Regions from separate parts of the Homo sapiens genome. Here region 1 is linked to region 2. A link means that fine-mapping ties the variant in region 2 to the expression of a gene that starts in the linked region. Tissue or cell type: transverse colon. Region 2 holds a variant in brackets; the other region holds the start of a gene. All regions are shown on one strand. Distances are between the middles of the regions.

The links. PIP is the estimated chance that this variant, and not a neighbour inherited with it, causes the effect. A credible set is the group of variants that fine-mapping cannot tell apart.
Region 1: ENPP3 starts here. The variant in region 2 is the best candidate, but not a certain one, in a credible set for the expression of ENPP3 in transverse colon (GTEx, PIP 0.75).

Annotation. Positions count from the first base shown.
Region 1 is chr6:131,630,293-131,641,489 of GRCh38, forward strand. It overlaps ENPP3 (ectonucleotide pyrophosphatase/phosphodiesterase 3), which reads left to right and starts at 7,010. Exons shown (of 25, transcript NM_005021.5): 1 at 7,010-7,170; 2 at 11,163-11,197. The coding sequence starts at 7,093. RefSeq lists a silencer at 5,649-5,738.
Region 2 is chr6:131,728,101-131,739,476 of GRCh38, forward strand. It overlaps ENPP3 (ectonucleotide pyrophosphatase/phosphodiesterase 3), which reads left to right. Exons shown (of 25, transcript NM_005021.5): 21 at 5,488-5,623; 22 at 9,255-9,332; 23 at 9,931-10,063. Among named protein-coding and RNA genes, the nearest start is that of CTAGE9, 23 kb to the left of the region's middle. The variant G/GT (reference allele first, on the strand shown) is at 4,822.

The sequences.
Region 1 (11,197 bases), 98 kb before region 2:
CATTACTTTGGGTAGAATAAAAACATCTGAAGTGCCTTTATTTTATGGACAAGACTTCCTCTGAGGTAATAGCTATTTCTGGAATGCTGGATGTAGAGAAAGATTTGGAACACCTACAAAGTTATACCTAGTAAAGTTATTATAATTTATAACAGTTGGGTTCACTGGACATTTATGTATGTGGTAGCTTATACTTCTAATGTTATTTCTGAAACCGTTACAAAATTTATTCAGCAAGTGTTCATTGAATGTCTTCTAGGTGTTGGCCACTGTGCTAGACACTAGAACAAGACTGTAAGCTCAAACTGACCTAGTTCCTGCCACCACGGAGTTGACACGGCAGAGAGGAGTTTAAAGGTTTGGGGAAATAACTTGGTTCATGCCAGGTTTCAGAGATGTAAACAGTACGTGGCCTGTACCTTCTGCTTCATGGATGGGCACCGTGGGAGCACTGTGACACTGAGCTCTACCTCGGAGAGCCCAGGCAGCATGGTTGTTTTATAATGTCTCTTCTGGAGACATCTCTAGAATTTGAGTCATAAATGAGGCCCTCATGAGTACACTAAAAATGAGAAGAGCCTATGAAAACCTGGAAAATGTTTGGAAATCCAAAGATTTCTGAGTTTCAAAATGAACAAGAAAGGGCTCCTAGAAATCTAACACTACTAGGGAATATTTCTGTACTTGAGACAAAGTAAGAGAAACAGTCTTCCATGAACCAGAGACAACCTTAGGAATGCTGATCGTTCAGTAGAAAACAATTGCTACACCACAGGAGTCATCACATCAGGTTTCTCATCTCCAAATTGATTATAGATGTTCATTGTGCTGATCAGTAATGAGATTTTTACTTATTTAGTCAGAAAATATCTTTTCACACACATAGGTACTGGCAAACAGCGGTATCAAACTGTGACCATTGATTCTACTTTGCCATAGTCATTGTTTGGAGGACTAGAGCTGGGCTCTCTATTCCATGCTGGGTGTCTGCTTTGTCTCCTGGTGTGTACCATTGCCTCTCAGACCTGGTTTGGCACTGCTGACATCAGTCTCACCAAGACAGCCAGTTCTCAATTCAGCTTCAGTGTTGGATCTCCACTTGCTGAGGATTAGCTTCTGTCCTTCCTATACCAACTGCCTACCTGGTTAGCTTTCTGATTGCTTTGTGTGCTTGTCAATCTCCTTGTAGGTTTTTCTGCTTTTTCCTCATGACTGGCCCTCCCTGAAGTTAGTCACCTGCCCATCTATCTCTGGCATTATGTTATTATGTGAGGTCTCCCTTCCTTTGTGGACTCCTTCTTCCTTTTGCTGTTGGACCTGAGCCTAGCATCCGCCTCACCTCTACCACCCTCCTCAGTGCGATTAGTTTCTCTGGGCTCTCCCAGTCTAGCTTGTCCACCTATCACCCAAGATCTAGCACTGGAACCAGGAAGGGCAGGTTCCTGAGACAAAGAAGTTGATGTTGGCAGGCCCCTAGGGCTTTTCTGAGACAACAACAACCCATTTGTTGCCAGAATTCTGTGGACACTGAGACCTTCTGTAACATGAGGAATGTTTACGGTTTACATTGATGGGTGATGTAATGGTAGCTGCCTCTCAGAATGCAAGCGTTCTAAGCCATTAACTTACTTACAAATTACTCTGAACATTTTAATGTTCAGAGTAAAGTTTCAGAACCAAGAAGGTACAGGTTGTTCTGAAGTTGAAGAAGAAAAGAAGAGAAGGTACAGATTGTTCTAAAGTTAAAGAAGAAAAGAATAGGCAAACTTTCAAGGTCCAGTTAACTTAGAAAGTGTAGGTTCAGATTTAAGTGACACAGGCAGTCTATTCCAAAGTCTAACTTGCATGGAAGGTGTGGTTTTGGCTTGTGTCTATTGATCAGGTGAACTGTTAAGTTTCTTTCTTTCTTTTTTTCTTTCTTTTTTGAGATGATGGTCTTACTCTGCTGCTCATGCTGGAATGCAGTGGTGCCATCATAGCTCACTACAGCCCCAAACTCCTGGGCTCAAGCAATCCTCCCCATATTCTCCCACCTCAGCCTCCCGAGTAGCTAGGACTACAGGCATGCACCATAACTCCTGGATAATTTTTTATTTTTCATTTTTTGTAGAGACAGGGTCTCACTATGTTGCCCTGGTGGGTCTTAAACTGACATAAGTGATCCTCCTGCCTCAGCCTCCCAAAGTGCTGGGATTACAGGTGTGAGCCACTGCATCCAGCCAGGAATAAGTTTCTAGAACTTGAAAGACTCAAAAGAGGTTGGGGTTTAGAGTTCAGTTAGAGAAATTGTTATAGCCAAAAATATGGCTAGCAACTTGGCAATGCCAACCATCTTCACTATACCTACTTGTATTATACATAGGTAGATTCCTTGAGGTTTATTCATCTTAGGACCTGAAGGACTAGGATGTGTCCCTATTATCATATCCAAAATTTAGTGACTTAGAGATAATCTAATAATCTCTGATAATTCTTAAAAATGAAGAATTCAATGTCCAGAATCACTTAATTTGTAACACAGACAGTCACTTACAAGCTAAGCCTTTATCAGAGGCCCCCTGACTTCCCCACCTAGGATTTTTTTGTGTGTTTTTCAGGGTTGAAAGGGGATAGGGATATACTCACTATGTACCCACAATTTTTTTAATTAAAAAAAGAGAAAAGGGATGAGGGATGAGGATGAAGGAAGAGAGAAGTGAAATTCTGGCAGTGTAGAACATAAGGAATCACTTAGTAAAGATACAGAGTAAGAGTCAGTAGTATGTTGGTGATATGGTTAGGCTTTGTGTCCCCACCCAAATCTCATCTTGAATTGTAGTCTCCACATGTTGAGGGAGGGAAGTGATTGGATTCTGGGGGTGGTATCCCCCATACTGTTCTCATAATAGTGAATTTTCACGAGATCTGATGGTTTTATAAGTGTTTGACGGTACCTCCTATGCACACATTCTCTTCTTTCTCCCGCCACCACGTGAAGAAGGTTCTTACTTCTCCTTTGCTTTCCACCATGATTGTAAGTTTCCTGAGGCCTCCCCAGCCATGTGGAACTGTGAGTCAATTGAAGCTCTTTTCTTTATAAATCACCCAGTCTCAGGTAGTTCTTTATAGCACTGCGGAAACGGACTAATATACTTGGTATACAAAACTGGTATAGAATCAAGTTACATTTTGGAGAATACCAGGAAGAAGCATCTGAAAGGGCAATTGGAGTGTCAGAACCAGGTTAAGAGCAGGCTCTGTGGCACAATGGATAGTTCATTGGACTTTTGCCTACATTGAAAGAATGAGGTTAAGCTCAACAACTAATGCTGATGCTTTCGCTGGTTAGGCCTATAGGTGGAATTCATGAAGTTGGGGGAATACCTCACTAATTTTTAATTTTTCTAATTCTGAAGCCCAGGCTCACCTGATTGTGGCAGTGGGGAATGTCCAAAATATGTAGGACCGGGCAGGCCGGCAACTCAGGCTAATGCTGCTGTTTTAGGAGTGAATTTTTTCTCTGGTAAGCCTGTTTTTGCTCGTAAGGACTTCAACTGATTGGATGAGGCGCGCTCTCACATTATTGAAGACAATTTCCTTTTTTAAAGTCAATTAATTATAGTTGTTACCATATCTACAAAATATCACAACATCACCCTAGATTAGCGTCTGATTAAATAACAGGATAATATGGCCTAGCCAAATTGACACACACAGCCAATCATCACAGCAGGAAGGAAAAGTAGGATCCCCAGCAACTAGAGGTAAGGCAGAGTCAGTGCACTGCTATGAGTGCAAGTAGGCAATCAGAACCCAGAAACCCATAAAAATGGAAGGCACATAACAAATGATTAGATAAAAGCCATAGATCCTAGGAATCCCCTAAATTTGAGACAAATTATGACATAGGTTTGGTCTTTGTTTTTAAAAAATCATAATGATTCAACAGCAAAATACTTTGAAGAAGGAACCTGGTGGTATTTCACTTCTGAGATATCACTAAAAGAATTGTGCGTAAGTGACCAAGTCCCTTTGGTGGTCCTCCGACCTTATCTGTAAAATCCAAAAGTCTGATTAGAATAATGACAGGATGTTTGCAGAAAAGAATTTGAATGTAAAGTGTTTAGACTGCTCTGGGCTGCATATCAAATCACTAAGAGGGATATTTATTTATTTATTTGTTTGTTTGTTTGTTTGTTTATTTTGAGACAGTCTCACTTTGTTGCCCAGGCTGGAATGCAGTGGCATGATCTTGGATCACCACAACCTCTGCCTCCCAGGCGCAAGCGATTCTCAAGCTTCGGCCTCCCAAGTACCTGAGATTAGAGGCACCTGCCACCATGGCCAGCTAATTTTTGTATTTTTAGTAGAGATGGGGATTCACCATGTTGGCCAGGCTGGTCTCAAACTCCTGACCCCAGGTGATCCACCTGTCTCAGCCTTCTAAATTCTGGGGTTATAGGTGTGAGCCACCATGCCTGGCTAATTTTTGTATTTTTAGTAGACATGGAGTTTCACCATGTTGACTAGGCTGGTCTGGAACTCCTGACTCAGGTAATCCGCCCGTCTCAGCCTTCCAAGCCTTTCAAAGTGCTGGGATTACAGGTGTGAGCCACCACTCCCGGCCGGGATATTTTAAAAATACTGCTGCCTTAGCCAAAACTACAGAAGATCATTAAACTGAAGTGGAGCCTGGGCTTCAGAATTAGAAAAATAAAAACTTAAAAAAAAATACTTCTCTGAGTACTTCTAAGTTCATCCAGTGTGGAGAGTCAGGTGCCCAAATTATTCAAATTTTTTTTTATTCTGGTTTTTAAGCACATAATACTCCATGTGATTCCTGGAAAGAAATCTGCAAGAACCTGGATTTGGTTGTCTTTATGGCATCTTCTAGTTCTAAAATGAATTCCTTCTGTACCAACAACTAATGCTGATACTTTTGCTGGTTAGGGATATAGGTGGAATTGGTGAAGTGGGGGTATACTGGACCAAGGGAGTGATGGAAAAGATGAGCACAAACCCATAACGCCAGAAAAGGAAACGTGGCTCTCATGCTGCAGATTTATATTTTATTTATTTTTATTTTTTCATTTTTTTATACTTTTGAGACAGGATCTCACTCTTGTTGCCCAGGCTGGAGTGCAGTGGGGTGATCATGTGGCAGGCCAGGTCTCACAAACAGGCAGGCCTCCATAATAACTGTTTCAGCACTGACTGAATGGTTAGGTTAAATATTAAAGGCTGAGAGAGCCAGTGCCCTTACACAAAGTCCAGAACAAGTAACAAAGGCCCACCAAGACTCTTTCCCAGGCCTTCCTGGGCCTTGAAGCATGACAAGATAACGAAGGAATACTCACACTCCTTGTGACAAGACAGTCTTCGGGAGATTCCCAGCAGCTGCCGGGTGAGGTTTTCCTGGAGACTCTCCCCAGGGCTATCCCATGTGCAAAACCACACGTCCCTCTCCCTACTGGGGAATAACGGAGATCGGGGTGGACGCGCTCAAAGGGTAAAACCAGATTTATGCCAGGAGCCTATTATTTTCCCATCTGGGCTTGTTAAGCCATTTGCCTGGTACTGCCAGGGAAGCAATAGGGCTCGCTTATACACCTGCTTTGCATTTGGTTAAGATCAGGTTTTGAGTGGGTTTTGAGTCTGTTCTGCCCGAGTGCACCCCCTCTCTTGTCTTTGTCTGAAATCTGTCTCTGCTTGTTTGTGTATCTGTCATGGCTCACTGCAGCCTCAAACTCTGGCCTCAAGGGATCCTCACACCTCAACCTCTCCAGTAGCTGGGACTATTGGCATGCACCACCATGCCTGGCTAATTTTTGTTGTTGTTGTTATAGAGACAGAGTCTCCCTATGTTGCCCCGGCTGGTCTCAAATTCCTGGACTCAAGCAATCCTCTTCCCCCTGATTTTCAGAAATAGTGTCTAAATTCTATGATTTAGACATGTTTAGTTAGAGTAGTGATGCAGTCATTGTATTTATATTAGAATACATTCTTTTCATATTTTTTTTCTCACTGCTTTTAGGGTTGGAAGAGTTTAGTTAGTTAGAGTAGTGTTTTCCAAAGGGTGTACTGCAGTCTACAGGATTTTGATAATCTTTTCATTAGAGGAGTATTCAAGCTTTATTTAACCAAGGGGGTTGTCATAGAACTCATGTTCCATGGAACCAAACTTTGAGAATCACTGCCTTAGGGTCACTGAAACTAGAAGAGTTTAGCATCCACTATTTGCTAAAATTCTCTTTGACCAACACTATTATTAATTTAGCTTCTTTCATCACCAAACTGTAACCCCTTTTCAGCATGGAGTACACATGCTAGGATGCACCAGTCTAGATACATAAGAAAATAGTGAATTTAAATTGATTAGTGAAAATTGCTTGGATTTGGGGAGTTAGAAGTCTTGGGTATCAGTTCTAGTTCTGGCACCTAGTAAATAATTTTGAGCAATAAGTCATATATAATAACTTAATTTAAATAATCAGAGCCTTAATTTGCTCATCTAAAAACAAGAATAAAATGTTTATAAGGGATATTTTTAAGTTTGACTTGAGCTAATGTGTATAAAAACTTGTCAAATTGTGAACACTGTAAAAAGCAAGATATAATTATCACAGAACTAAGTACTTTATATTGGTTCAGCAGAGTTTCAGAATTTCTACTGTTGTCAAAGCACATGTTTTGCTATGTTGATTTTCAGCTGCTATGAAGTTTATAGAAAAGCGGAAAGTCTGAAATTTCTGTGACAAGGCTTTTTGTTCGGGGTTATTTTTAAAGAAAACAGAAGATCGGATTGCATTAAAATTTGATGATTGTGTTATTCTTGTTATATATGTCTTGACTAGTATTTAGTAAAAGTTATAAGGAAAAAAGGAGCAGTTGTCTGCAATATACTAGAAATGAACTTTAATCTTTTCACACGATTCTTATTACAACATTTTTTCCTCTCTCCAGATTGCCCAATCACTGAAGAGCTGTGATCTTCCTAAACAGTTAAAAGTCAGGCACAGCTATGTAACTCATACAGTTTCTCTTTGCCAGACTAGACTAAAGAAGGAGCACTAATTTATTCTGATAAAACAGGTCTATGCAGCTACCAGGACAATGGAATCTACGTTGACTTTAGCAACGGAACAACCTGTTAAGAAGAACACTCTTAAGAAATATAAAATAGCTTGCATTGTAAGTACAATTCTTATTTTTAGTCTTTCTAGTTTTGTGACAAATGTTAAAAGTATATGATTTCCCATTTACATTTCTTTGTGTTGCTATTAAAATGTAAACTTTTAAGTAACTGTATTCAGTATTATCCCTTATGAAAACTCTAATGCAAATTAATATCTTAAATCATATTTTACACGTAAGAAATTTGAGTAACAACAAGTTAACATTACGTTAAACTCAAAAGTTGGAATCCATGACAGAACGCTTTGTGGCGCTGATTTTTTGCATGATTATAACTACCTCTCAATCACTTTTTTATTGCATGAGTATTTTAAGACAAGAAAGTGAGAAATTAAAATCATTGTACCCTATTATTTGCTGAACCAACAATTGTATCCTATTTTACTTCACTCCTAGAGATAGTCTCTTTTGCCTATTTTCTCTCTCTTGTCATTTCATGTGGTAAGATCTGCCACCCCCCCTCACCCCCCAAATAAATTTTCCTTGATTTTATTTTCTTTTTTCTTTTTTTTAATTTTAAATTTTTTTCTTTTTCTTTTTACTCCAGAAATACGCTTATCCATTTCCTTGATTTTATTACTCTCTCTTTTCCCTTTGCCATCAAACTTTTGGGGTAAAGAGGGCTCATTTCATTGCTTCAGTTTTCTCAGCCCCCAACCATTCCTTTGTGCTCTGGCTTTGTTTCTACTGTACTGAGTCCCTGACTCAAAAGTCAGTCCTCCTCGTCCTTCATCCACTTGAGTGTTCATAACAACAATAACTTCCTGGTACTTTCTCATTCTGAATTATTCTCTCCCCTTGCTTCTACCATGACATTGACATTTTCATTTTATGACTTTTTTCCTTATCTGCATTCTTAGCCAACAATTTATCTTTATTCTCATGAAAATTACAACACAAGCTTCACTAAACCCTATCTAAGATCTCTTAAGAAATCTCATGTTCTCTAATAGTCTTTTTAATTTTAATTTTATTTTTGAGACAGGGTCTCTCTCCTTTGGGATCTCACCTCACCACAACCTCTGTTTCCCAGGCTCAAGTGATCCTCCTGCCTCAGCCTCCTGAGTAGCTTGGACCACAGGCACATGCCACAAGGCTCAGCTAAGTTTTTGTGAGTTTTTTTCTTTCTTTTCTTTTTTTTGTAGAGACTGGGTTTCACCATGTTGCCCAGGCTGGTCTCAAACTCCTGGATCAAGTGATCTACCTGCCTCGGCCTCCCAAAGTGCTGGGACTACAGGCATGAACCACTGCACCTGGCCTCTAGTGTTTTCCTCAGCCAAGAATTCCAAGTAATCCACCAGCTCTGACTTTTTGCCCAGCCTCTGTCACACAATTTCTTTTTTTTTTTAATTTTATTATTTTGGTAATATGTGTATTTTTAGAGACTGGGTCTCGCTATGTTGCCCAGGCTGGTCTTGAACCCTGGGCTCAAGTGATCCTCTCATTCAGCCTCTTGAGTAGCTGGGGACTATGTGTGTGCCCCAGTGCACTAGCCTGTTTCAAATGCCTGCTTCCTGACTCCTGACTCAGTACCTTACACCAAAACTAATTGCATTATTTTTTCACACCAATCTTGCCGCAGCTTTTCCCTATATCCCATATTTTAAGGTCACCGCTATTCTCTGTCTCTCCAGAATTGTTTCAAGAAGTAAATAAAATAATGTAAAACAATGTGTGTAAGTATTAAGCCTAGTAACAAAGTAAATCCTCAATATATTCCATTTATTCTTTATCCTTCTGAGAATTTCAATTTCAGAGTGCTCTTTATAGCTCTTATGCTAATATATATATATATATATATTTTTTTTTTTTTCTCTCTCTCTTTTTTTTGGAGACATGTTCTCGCTCTGTTGCCCAGGCTGGAAGACAGTGGCATGATCATGGCTTGCTGCAGCAACTCAGGCTCCAACTTTGGCTCAAATGATCTTCCCATCTCAGCCTCCCGAGTAGCTGGGACTTCAAGCATGTTTATTATATTTATCCTAGCTTATCAATTCAGGAAATTATAAAATCTTCCACAGCAAAATTTGTGCATCATTAATTTCCCTTCTTTGTATCTCTCTAGTGGTTTTTGAGTATATATAATGAAGTTCAATATTTTTAAATCATTGTTTCAAAAGTACCCTGATGTCTTCAAACTTTTACTAAAGTTTCACTTAAACATTTTGAAGGTATCTGCTGTGTTTCTAGCACTCTTTGTTTAGCCCAGTTAAAGCCAAATGATGTGCTCTCAGCAGTTTTTGATGTTCAGAGTATTCTCCCCACTTTGTGCACAGTGTAACATAGTTTAAGATACATGTGCACCCCAATATCAAGAAGCTTTTTTGGAATTACATATTTATAGTAAATGATTATAAAGGCTTAAAAATAAACTTCTTAGGCGGGGCACAGTGGCTAGTGCCTATAATCCCAGCACTTTAGGAGGCCGAGATAAGAGGAGCTCTTGAGGCCAGGAGTTCCATACCAGCCTGGTCAACATAGTGAGACCTCCAACTCTAAATAATAATAATAATAATAAATAAATAAGCCTTTTACTCTCAAGGAGCTCACAGAATAATGTAGAAAACAAGCCACAAATATATGGAACAAATACAAAAATTATGAAGAAACAGATTCTAACATTAAATATTGTGAAGTTTTAAAGCATCTTAAGAACAGCTAGATGTTGTTGATTTTTCTAGCAAGTTTGAACAGCAAAAGTACCACAGATAAGGTGTAAACCAAAATATGTTAATTTGTAAGTCTATGATGTGTGAGGTTTACCAGAAGGAGTTCCCCAACGTTGTTTTTCTGCTTTGTAGTCACTCTAGTTTCAGTCGACTGTGTCTTCTAAGCACCATGACAAGGGAGGAACTGCTAATGGTGTTATTTAGTAAATGCTTATGTTCATTTTTTCCTCTCCATCCTCTCCACTGAATGAACATGTACTGAAAGGTCACTGACCCTTGAGCTAACTTTGAGACTTCATATAAGAATTGTTTTCTTAGTATTGTAACATAGCTTCCCAATTGTTGAATTCACTTCCATTGTAAACATTAGATGTGTTAATTTTCCAGTTGACTTTCAGAATGAAAACAATCCTCAAAAAAATAATTTATGTACTTCTTAATTATCTAAGCAAAATCTGATGTTTTTTTCTTTTGTGAAAGTTATTTTTTGTGTCTGAAACTATAACAAAGGTTATTGTAAAATACTTTCCTAAGTAATTTGATTACGTGTCTTTCTGCCATTCTTTATGACAACATACAGTATTCAAGCCCTGTCATCCAGCATGCTTATCTCTGGACTTCATGGAAGAGGAAAGAGGGCAGCTAGAAGAATTCTTTTTAATTATATCATAGTTTAATCTAATCATAGCATAAAGTTCGTTACACCAAAGGGCTTTGTCAGCAGAGCGATAATGAATGACATAAACAATCTTTGGTCAGGCAGTTTCCAAATTATCCTAAGTGGTTTGTATGAGTGGAAGACCAAAACAGATTATTTGCTAGTTAACTATTTGGACAATGTATTTTTACGTATGTTAAATATTATTATCATCCTGTGATAGAGTAGGAAAAAAAGCCCTGCTCCCTTAGAATGAGGCAGTTAAGGATTTAACAGTTCTGCAATTCTTTTCAATAAATGATCACAAATGGGTGCCTGGTTTAAAAAAAATGGCCCAGAAAAATGGTTTTATGGTTTTAATTCTTAACTTTAACTCAATTTGCAGTTAAGTTCATTGCATTTGAATGGTAAATGTGTTTGAATTTGAAGATCTGTAATAAATGGTATCTTTAAATTCTGCCAAAATATTCTTTCTTAATTTCAAGCATTAAATAAAATACTATACCTCCAGTTAGGCCAGATACTAGATCATTGTTGGATCTGGTATCTGGCATAACTAGTACGCTGCAGGTACTTAGAGAGAATACTGAGAAAGGGTGGTTATTTGTATCTTTGTAATTTTTTAAAAAATTATAAAAGTTACTTTTTCCTTTTTGCAATAGGTTCTTCTTGCTTTGCTGGTGATCATGTCACTTGG
Region 2 (11,376 bases):
TCATATGGACGGTTGGTGCAACATTACTTTCTTAATATGCACAGTGTTCAGTTCGTGATTTTCTTCAACACACAACATTCCACAAAATAACTTCTATTTTGTTATTGTTTTCGAGAGGAGTGGCATACTCAGGGTCAGTCCTATTATTTAATTTTCTATTTTGAAAATTCCAGGTATGAGGGGTTGTGTGGCATTAAAGGGAATGTTTATGTTTTTAGTACTTTTCCCCTGCTGTCTTGCATTCTTGAATTTTTATGAGCTTTGGCGGAAACCAAAGGCGGAGAGATTCTAAGTGGGCTCAGACTAGGAGTTTAATACAATTCTTCTTTGTTATTGTTTTAAAACTAGCTTCCTTGTTACCAAAAGTTCCTGTCCTTTCACTGATCCCACAGAAGTACTTGTGTATTTCTCCTTCCCTGTGACAGGATGGAATTCTAGCAATTTTCTGCTTTCTAATTCAGAAATTACTCTGTTAGTGTGTTGTGGTTCAAGAAAATTACATACAAGGATGTTTTGGGATTCACATAAAAATGTTGTAAATCAGCTCTGTGTTTCAAAAAATCAGGCTTAAATAAGCACTTTTTGGAACATGGACCCAATTGGTCTTAGCCTTTAAGATTTATAGAGCTTTTGTTTTTCTGTGGTTTTGGTGGGTTTTGTAATTTTTGTTGTATCTCAGAAGAGTTCTGGGGAAGTAGTTGTGATTTGAAATCATGGTCGTAGAACAGCTGATTCAAAACCATTAAGGTTAGTCAGACCATACATAGATTTTGCTTCTGGGCCTGTTCAGAAGGAAGATATGCACTAGTGTTCCTGTTGCTAGGTGATAAATTGAAAATAAGAGCAAGAATTGTGATTACTGTTTAAAATAGGTATTTCAGAATTTAATATGAAATCAAATAACTTTTCAGAGTAGAAATCTAGTGTACTTTGAAAAATGCCTCTCTGTCTCCCTATGTATCTATGTATCTCTCGCTCTATTTACCTATCTATAGCTATATGTCTATCTATCTGTCAATCTACACACATATCATTCCATGTTAAAAAGCCTTTTTTCTTGTTTCTAAAGATTATTTTGTGAGTCTTTGAAACAGGGGCATTATTGTGTGTTGCAAACATTTTTGAACTATGAAAGAATTATTTTTCCCTGTAGAAAATAAATCATACAACCAAATAATTAAAAACATACATAGTTATTATCCTTACCGTAAGGCAAAATTGTAACTATCTAATCTTCAAACAAGTAGGTTTTAGCTTGTACATTCAGCCTACAGGTAAGAAGCATCTGTAACTTCAATAGAAATAATTTTATCCTCTGTTCAGGTTCTACTTTGTTTCAATGCCAGACTAAAAGTACAAGCAGCTCACGTTCCTGTCTATACTCATCATTTACTTCTCCAGTAAGATTTTGAGAGCTAAAAAGTTCATATTTTATCTGAGTGTCTGAATTATATTTATTGCTTTCCTGACTTTCTATTCCGTTGCTTCAAAAATTCCAGGGAACTCTGATAGGATGGCAGGATTGAAGCTGTTTATGTGTTGGAGGCGGGGTGGTGGTGGTGGTGGTTCACTAAAGCCTTTTTTATTATAGAAAGGACCTTCCTGTACCTCCCCTCCATCCTTCTAATGGGCTGCCTATTGCATAATCTCGCCTGGATAAAGGAGGCCACATCCTCATTCCTAGTACTGATGCACTTTTATTTGAGGGTTCAAGTTTGGTATGTAAGAAATAAATCTCAAGATTTTCGGTTAGCAGAAAATGTGACTTTTTTTTTTTAGTACTTTCTGGCTGAAGCTATCCCAGTTCATTTCCCCCAGCACAAAGTCTAAGCTACTTTGAGAACATGGTAAATATTTTGACCAACTAAGTTGTTTAAGCACAACTTTTACAGCCACAGCCTCATTAAAAATTACAATAAACTTTCTTCGTTAACATTTTTATAATTTTAACTGTTAAATATAAGCATCTCAATTTCCTTACATTATGGAAAATGCATTTAGGGCTACATTTATATACTGTATATTTCTTCAAGTAAAACTTACTAATGTGAAATGTTTGAGTACAACGATAAAGATGTGTGTTAGGAAATATCAAACTCACAATATACCAGCGGTCTATGGGGCCAACTTGGTCAGCAGTCACCATTCCTTATTTTCTAATTTTACAACATACTTACGTAGCCCTTATACCAAGTGGAGAAACCTGGTCACTCAGAACTGTATACTATGATATGTTTTTGAAAGAATATAAACAAATGCTTTTAGCTTTCCAGACTCTGCCACCTGAAGGAGAGTGAAATAAATGGTGAGAACTCATCCAACACATTTAGCACAAACGTCTTCGTATTTCTTGGTTTACTTCTTGTTTTGGTGGACTATATCACTCAGGAGCTTCCTGAGAAAGAAAAAGGGGAAGATACATTCTTGAGAGTTTTTGTGTCTCAACATGTTTTTACTCTGCCTATACACTTAATTGGTGTTTTAGCTGGTTTCAGAATTTTAGAAATAATTTTTCTTCAAAATTAGTAAGACAGGTCAAGCGCAGTGGCTCACGCCTGTAATCCCAGCACTTTGGGACGCTGAGTGGATGGATCACCTGAGGTCAGGCGTTTGAGACCAGCCTGGCCAACATGGCAAAACCCTGTTTCTACTAAAAATACAAAAATTAGCTGGGCGTGGTGGCGCATGCCTGTAATCCCAGCTACTTGGGAAGCTGAGGCAGGAGAATCAGTTGAACCCAGGAGGCAGAGGTAGCAGTGAGCCAAGATTGTGCCATTGCACTCCAGCCTGGGCCAGATAGTGAGACTCCATCTCAAAAAAAAAAAAAAAAAATTAGACTTCCTGGGCTGATTCTCTAATGTGTTTGAATTTTTCCTATTTTTCCCATCTCTTTGTCTTTAATTCCACCTTTTGAGTCACGTCTGCAACTTCATCCTCTAGATCTTATTGAGTGTTTTCTTTTGGCTGTCGTATTTTGAAATCCCAAGAGCTCTTTCTGTTACCTTTTCTCTTTTTAAACATTGCCTCTGTTCCTTCTTTATGGATGCCATATATACTCTCAGCTCTCTGAGAAAAGAGTTTTCTTCTGGCTTCTGCATTGTCTCTTTTTCTTCTCCCTTATTCCCCAGTGTCTAGTGGTCCTTGGCTGTCAGCTTCTATTTTAAGAGTTAGGCACTAAACTATATGGCTGGGTCTTTCCAGTCTATAAGCTTCACTATAGGTTGATCAGGAAGAGAACCAGCCATTTTGTTGAGGACTCCAAACTGACAGTATCTAGTTTCTTTTCAGGCTGGTTGTTTTCCAAAGAGAGGATACTTCTAATCTGACTCAGCATATACAATTTTCAGGCTAAATGGGCAATGAGATTGGGGAATCTTATCATTCAGCAATAGAGTTTTGTTTAATCTCATTTCTTTCAGTATGGTGCACCTGCTCTTGGCTGTGCCTTGTGTCTTTTAGTCTGATCATCCCTCTGGTTTAAACTCTCCAGAGAGTAAACATACTGTCTATCCCTTTTTGCAGACTTTTTCAATCTATCCTCTATTTCCAGCCTTATGCGAACTCCTGTCTTTAGGACTCCAAGTTCTACCCTTCTGGGGTTCTACAGTAGGACTTCCTTGGTGCTTTTCCCAAACATAAGCTCTTGGTAGTCAGTGTTTACTGGTCTACTAAATCACGTTATTATTTATCTGATTTCCAGCTTCTGAATGTTCCCTGTCATCTCTTGTGTGTTTTCATTATTACTGTCTTCTTAATGGAATTTTAGAAGGGAGCAAGATAAATGTATGTGTTTAATCAATTTGAGAAGTTTTCTAGCTGGAGCTTTGTAGTATGTTAGGGAGTACAGTCTCTGCTTTGCTTTTTCTGGACTTTTCTCATCTTCAGCTCCTACTTGTTCTATACCTCAGCATGGTGCTCTCCTGGCTACAAAGACAGCATACAGTGTATGTTGCCTCTTCCTTTGTGAATTGAACTCAGAGGTTTCAGACAACATAGCTAATTTTGCTTTCAGCACAATGCAGTGAATAAAGGAAGGTCATCCTAATTTAACTTAATCTTCATTTTTTTATAAATTATTTCAAATTTTATTAAGAAAGATATCCATTATGGGCAGTAGAGAGCATACAAATCAAAATGTCTGAGAAAAATAAACAAATAGCAAAATGTTCACTTACCCATGATTATATGCTAATCAAAATATGATGACCACATAATATAGTATTACCTTAAATACTCGAGTTAGGCAGCACATTTACAGGATGTCCTCTTGGTAAATAAATTATTGTACTAGTCTTTAAATAGGGCTACAAAGAAATTATTATTATTTTTTAAGACGGAGTCTCTCTCCGTTGCCCAGGCTGGAGTGCAGTGGCACGATCTCAGCTGACTGCAACCTCCACCTCCCAGGTTCAAGCAATTCTCATGCCTCAGCCTCCCGAGTAGCTGGGATTACAGGCACCCACCACCACACCTGGCTGATTTTTGTATTTTTAGTAGAGATGGGGTTTCACTATGTTGAACCTCGGACTCTTGACCTCCAGTGATCCACCCGCCTCAACCTTCTAAAGTGCTGGGACTACTGGCATGAGCCACCAAGCCTGGCCTAAGACATTATTATTATTATTATTATTATTATTATTATTATTATTATTTTCAGATGGAGTCTCACTCTGTCACCCAAGCTGGAGTGCAATGGCCCAGTCTCAGCTCACCTCCGCCTCCCGGTTCAAGCGATTCTCCTGCCTCAGCCTCCAGAGTAGCTGGGATTACAGGTGCCCGCCACCATACCTGGCTAATTGATGTATTTTTAGTAGAGACGGG[G/GT]TTCACCATGTTGGCTAGGCTGGTCTTGAACTGCTGACCTCGTGATCTGCCTGCCTCGGCCTCTCAAAGTGCTGGGATTACAAGCATGAGCCACTGAGCCCGGCCTGGCCTAAGAAATTATTTTAAAAATTCTTATATTTCATGATGAATGAAGCATGGCTGTAAATTTATTTATATTCAAAACTAATTTGTTTAGACAACTACACCTTCTTTGAATTAATCTTAGGTTGATAAAAAGTTCTTGAACAGCTGAAGAATAATATATCAATACTTAGTTTATATCAATATTTTAAAAGTAAATACATTTTACTTTCAATTTTTATTTAAAAGTACAATATACATCACCACATAAAAGTTAGATCTTGAAAAGGATTTTAGTTTTTAGGAATAGTTCCCATTATTCCTCTGCTCTCAATTCAGGTTTCACTGTGCAAATATTTTTTTCCAAGGTGTATTTGATTTGCCCTCCCGATGTCCTTAACCAGAAGGGAACCACAGAAGAAAACACTGCTGAAGACATCCATTCTCATTGCTTGCGTAGACCTGATTCACTAAGAAAATAGGAAAAGCTTAAATGAAAAACATTCTAGGGAAGTGACAAACCATATAAGGCAATGGGTGAGCCGCAATTGTGGGCGTAATTTTTTTCTCTCTCTCTTTGAACAGGGAGACACATCGCCTCTGCCTCCCACTGTCCCAGACTGTCTGCGGGCTGATGTCAGGGTTCCTCCTTCTGAGAGCCAAAAATGTTCCTTCTATTTAGCAGACAAGAATATCACCCACGGCTTCCTCTATCCTCCTGGTTAGTAGAACTCTTTTTTAGAGCAGTAGCTTAGAAAGCTCTCATCAGCTGGATGTGGGCATGTGCCTTAAACATATACTCCCCACCAAAACTACCTGCTTGGGTAAGCTAGCTGCCTGAGAGGCTTCCAGTGGTTGTGGCTGGCCAGAGCAGCACAGCGGCTGTAATAAAGACTAAGACATTTTGCAGTGGGACCCACACAGCAGCTCTCATCTGGCCCAGATGTTTAGAGAGTTCGGCAGGTTTAAGTTTAATTTTAAAACTGGAGATTCTTTGCAGAAGGACACAAACATCTAAAAACCCATTTCTTCTGACTCCTGCCCAAGCTAAGGTCCACCTGGAGAATACAGCTGTGCCCGTGAAAAGAAATCAGGCTGGGTGCTCGCTTTGGCAGAACATGTACTAAAATAGGAATGATACAGAGAAGGTCACCTAGTAAAATAAAATAAAATAAAAAAAGAAATCAGGCTGGAATTTTGGCCTGTCGCTCATGCTGTAGGGCTAACAGTTTTAAACTGCAGGTGAAGTAGCCAAATGAAATTTAAGTTTTTGTTGTTGTTGTTGTTGTTGTTTTCAGAAAGAATCTCTCTTGGGAACCTGCCAAAGCTAGTGTGATTTTCCTAAAACTCAAGCCACTTCCCTGTGCAACAGGAAACGTCATTTTTATTAACTTGCCTATGAGATTTTCAACAATTTCACCTTCTTAGAGATTTGTAATTTAAAGATTCCGAAATGTATAATGGGCAAAAAGGTTTAATGAAAGCAAGTAGCGTTATCAATTTAAAACTCCTGAGTTAGGATAAATTAACTGATAAATTTTATGTATCTAGATACAATCAGGGGGTACCAAATTTATGTAAGCCCTGTGATAAACATTAAAAATTTGCAACAGGCTGGGTGCGGTGGCTCACGTCTGTAATCCCAGCACTTTGGGAGGCCAAAGTGGGTGGATCACCTGAGATCAGGAGTTCGAGAACAGCCTGGCCAACATGGTGAAACCCTGTCCCGTCTCTACTAAAAATAGAAAAATTAGCTGGGTTTGCTGGTGCGCACCTGTAATACCAGCTATTCAGGAGGCTGAGGAATGAGAATGGCTTGAACCCGGTAGGTGGAGGTGCAGTGGGCCGAGATTGAGCCACTGACTCCAGCCTGGGTGACAGAGTGAGACTCTGTCTCAAAAAAAAAAAAAAAAGTTGCAACATTTTATTAATAAAATATTTGAAATTTGTGTATAAAATTGTATCTGTTAGGCCATAAGATATTAGTTAATACATCAATGTTTGCCTGACAAGGAATAAAATTAATAATTAAACAACTTGTCTCAAAAAATTAAGGATACGGCCAGACACGGTGGCTCATGGTCATAATCCCAGCACTTTGGAAGGTCGAGGCAGGAAGATCACAGGCTCAGGAGTTTGAGACCAGACTGGGCAACATAGTGAGATCTTGTCAGTTAAAAAAAAAAAATCAAGGATAAAATTAAACTCTCTTCTAACTCTCCAGTATAAATTCCAATTATTTGTTAAAAATAGAAGTTCTATTACTAGCACGTTCTTATTTTCCTCTAAAACAGAGGTAATGTTATGTTGATTGACTTTCCAACTTTCAGGGCTTAGTTAAAAAGGTAGAAGAGGCTTTTTGTGGAGTCTGAGAACTACAAACACCATATGAAATCTGAAGAAAAAAGAGCTACTTGTTTCTTCTTGTCTTTTGGTGCCTACTTATTGGCCTCTCATTGAATAATTAGTTACCCAGGCAGGATGGTGCATGCCTGTAATCCCACCTACTCGGGAGGCTGAGGCAGGAGGATCGCTTGAGTCCAGGAGTTCGAGATCAACCTGGGTAAAATGGCCAGACTCTGCCTTAATAGTAATTAAAAAAAATAATTAGTTAAGATATCCAAGTACAGTTTAAGTATAAAAAGTATTATAATAGAAAATTCATATAAGTGGAATTGTGCACTATATGTGTTTCTGTGACTGCCTTATTTCACTCAATGTCCTCAAGTTTCATTCATGTTCTTATATATTACAGAATCTAAAATAGTCAAATTCATAGAATCAGAGAGTGAAATGGTGGTTGCTGGGGGCTGGGGGAGGGAGAAATGGGGAGTTCCTAATTAATGGGCGTAAAGTTTCAGTTAAGCAAGACAAATAAGCTCTGGGGATCTTCTGTACAGTATTGTACGTAGAGTCAACAGTACTATACTATATACTTAAAAAATTGTTAACAGAGTAGATTTCATGTTAAGTGTTCTTACCAAAATGAAATCAAATGAAAAAGGATTTGAATAAACATTTACAGGTTTGCAGCTTTTAATCCTCACAATAATTCTATGAGATAGATGCCATGAGACAAATGAAGCACAGAGGGATGCAGCACTTTGCCCGAGGAGTGCAGCTGTGAGCAGCGGAGCTGGGGTTCCCACTTGGGCTGTCTGCTTCCAGAGCACCCTCGCTGAACACTCACTGTGCTAGACAGCACAGCCATAAATCCTCAGAGCCCATGATTTGTGGTGTTCCCTTCAGCAGTCTCTATTAGTCAGTTCTCATACTGCTAATAAAGGCATACCTGAGACTGGATAATTTATAAAGAAAAGGGGTTTAATGGACTCACAGTTCCACATGCCTGGCGATGCCTCACAATCATTAGGGAAGACAAAGGAAGAGCAAAGAGATATCTTACATGGCTGCAGGCAAGAGACAGCGTGTGCAGGGGAACTCCTCTTTATAAAACTATCAGATCTCGTGAGACTTATTCACTATCACGTGAACGGCATGGGAAAGACCTGCCCCCATGATTCAATTACCTCCCACAGGGTCCCTCCCACAGCACGTGGGAATTATAGGAGCTACAATTCAAGATGAGATTGGGGGGGACACAGCCAAACCATATCAGTCTCTATCAAGTAAAAACTCATTTTCTTCAGAAAATTTTATTTTGGAAGACAGCTATCTATAATAACATTATTATTTTGTGCACATCCAATAACTACCCATTTATATCTGGCATTCTGTTTGTTTCCTAGGGCTGCTGGAACAAATTACCAAAAAAGGTTGACTTAAAACAAAAATGTATTATCTCACAGTTCTGGAGGTCAGAAGGCTAAAGTCAAGGTGTTGACAGCCATGTTCTTTTTGAAGGCTCTAGGGGAAAATCCTTCCTTGTCTCTCCCAGCTTCTGGTGGCTCCAGGCATTGCTTGGCGTGTACTGGTATCACTCAAACCTCTGCCTCCATCTTCACAAGACCTTCTCCCCTGTGTTTCTCCTCTTCCCAAATCTCCTTCTCCTTATTAAGACACTAGTCACTGGATTTACAGTCCACCCTAAATCCAGGATAATCTCATCTAGAGACTCCTAGCTACATCTGCAAAGACCTATTTCCAAATAAGTTTATATTCACAGGGATGAAAGGAATGGTTAGGACTTGGATGTATCTTTTTTGGATCACACTTCAACCCACTACAGGCATAAAACTGCCTGCATTATTAACAACCTCTGTTAGAAAGTACTACTTCTGTGCTTTGACTGTTAATAAATTTATATTAATATGTAATAGTAGTATGCCTGTTGTGCAGTATGTCATATTTTCTCTTATAGCTAGATCTAATAAGATCCATTTGTTTTGCAGCCAGCAATAGAACATCAGATAGCCAATATGATGCTTTAATTACTAGCAATTTGGTACCTATGTATGAAGAATTCAGAAGTAAGTATGAATTTAGAGTATTAATTTTAAAATAGTTAAGTGACTCCTTGAACTTCCAAACTAAACACATATTTTTTTAATTGCAATTTGTTCCTGATATTAAGGGTCATTTTGTTCTAATGGTTTAAATATAGGTATAGGAAGGATCCCTCACATAGTTTCTTTTCAACTTACTTTGACTTTGAGTGACTTGTTGCTAGAATTCTGATAATTTGTTTTTAAGCCTTAATTTGATTACTGCCACTCACTAAAAGTAAATCAAATGTAAATGTTTATCCCCAGAGTAATAATTAATAAGGCAACATGTGTGTTCTGATCATTTTTAACACTCGCTGTCCCATAAGCAACTCAGCCCTAGGGAGAAATTTGAAGGCATATTTAACTGTAATTTCAAGACAATAACTACAAAAACAAAAAGCTATCATCAATGTGGCTGTTTATTTTTGCTTGTGAAGCCTATTCTGGAGAATTACCCAATCATCACTGGCAATTATTAAGGCAGAATTTCATGTTATTTAAATGTACTTGTCTATAATAGAAAATAGTGTCATATTTCACTGAAGTGGACATTTTAAACACTTTATGATTTTATTTTTAGAAATGTGGGACTACTTCCACAGTGTTCTTCTTATAAAACATGCCACAGAAAGAAATGGAGTAAATGTGGTTAGTGGACCAATATTTGATTATAATTATGATGGCCATTTTGATGCTCCAGATGAAATTACCAAGTAAGTGATTTGACTTTTTGATTTATCAATAGGGTCTCATGAGGGGAAATTCCAATATTTTAAGTAAAGCTCAGTATTTTAAATATTACATAATACATTCACAGACAAATGTTATTGTTGACTATTTTCAATCTAGTCTATCTAAATATTTAGGAAAGCTTATATTGCAAAAAATTTAAACTAATGGGCAAAGAAAACACTTCCTGGAAAAGTTTAGCAAAATTTTATTTGGAAAATTGCTGAATTAATGGGCAAAGATAACATGAAATTTTGTAAAGGCTAAGGAGGTAGACAAAACTTGATGTACTATCAATGAGTATAAAACCAATCCAACAGTAAATGAAAAAAAAGTCGAGTAAAGGCTAAGGTAAATTTTACAAGAATAGTGAAAAGTCAAGTAAAGACTAAGGTAAATTTTACAAGAATAGTGAACAGTTCATAAAAGCACTTCCCAGGAGACAATGTAGGTAAATTTCATGCAGAGAACTAGTCCTAACTAAACTGTACATTTTAGTATTAAGCCTGGTCATAACAGGTTGCTAAGAATTAGTTTTGAATGCAGAGCACAGTAATAGAGTTTTAGAGAAGTTTCATCTACCATTTCTCTTTATTATCAAAACATATGAAGGACCAAACTAAACAATTGTACTGTCTAAGCCTAGATTATGTAAAGCAATGATTTCTACCTATACCTTCTGATAAAGTAACATTTATGACTACCAAGTGTGTGGCCTTTTTCTATTTTGTTCACCATGTCCTTATTTCAGTGTTGAATGAATACTGAATCAATATTTCAGTATTGACTCTACCTTTCACAATTTATTAATTCTAATAATTCAAACTTTGACAGCATTTTCTATATGCTAGGTACTTTATAAAGAACTCACATATACATCAGTTAAACTGCAAAGATACCCTAGTTAGGTTCCATTAGCCCCCAGTTAGAGTTAAGGAAACTGGGGTTAAACAACTTATCTAAATTCTGCAACTAATAAGTGGTAAAGCCAGAATATGAACCCAGACAGCCTGGCTCTGAGTCCATGTTCTAAATCACAGTAATACATTTCTATTTATACCAGCTTGTATTCCTTTGGTGGAGTCAGACTTTGCACTTAAAACTTTTGAAAGCACTTTCATGTTCGTTATCTGAAACCGAAGTACTGTCACATCAGTTGTATGGATTTATCCCCATGTCTACACTGTGAAGTTGATAGCACAGAATCACTTCCTTGGAAAGCTGAGGAAACTCGAAACTCGGTAAATGACAGAATTAGAGGGTGAATGAAAGTCCAAACATTTTGTGGAAGTGCACG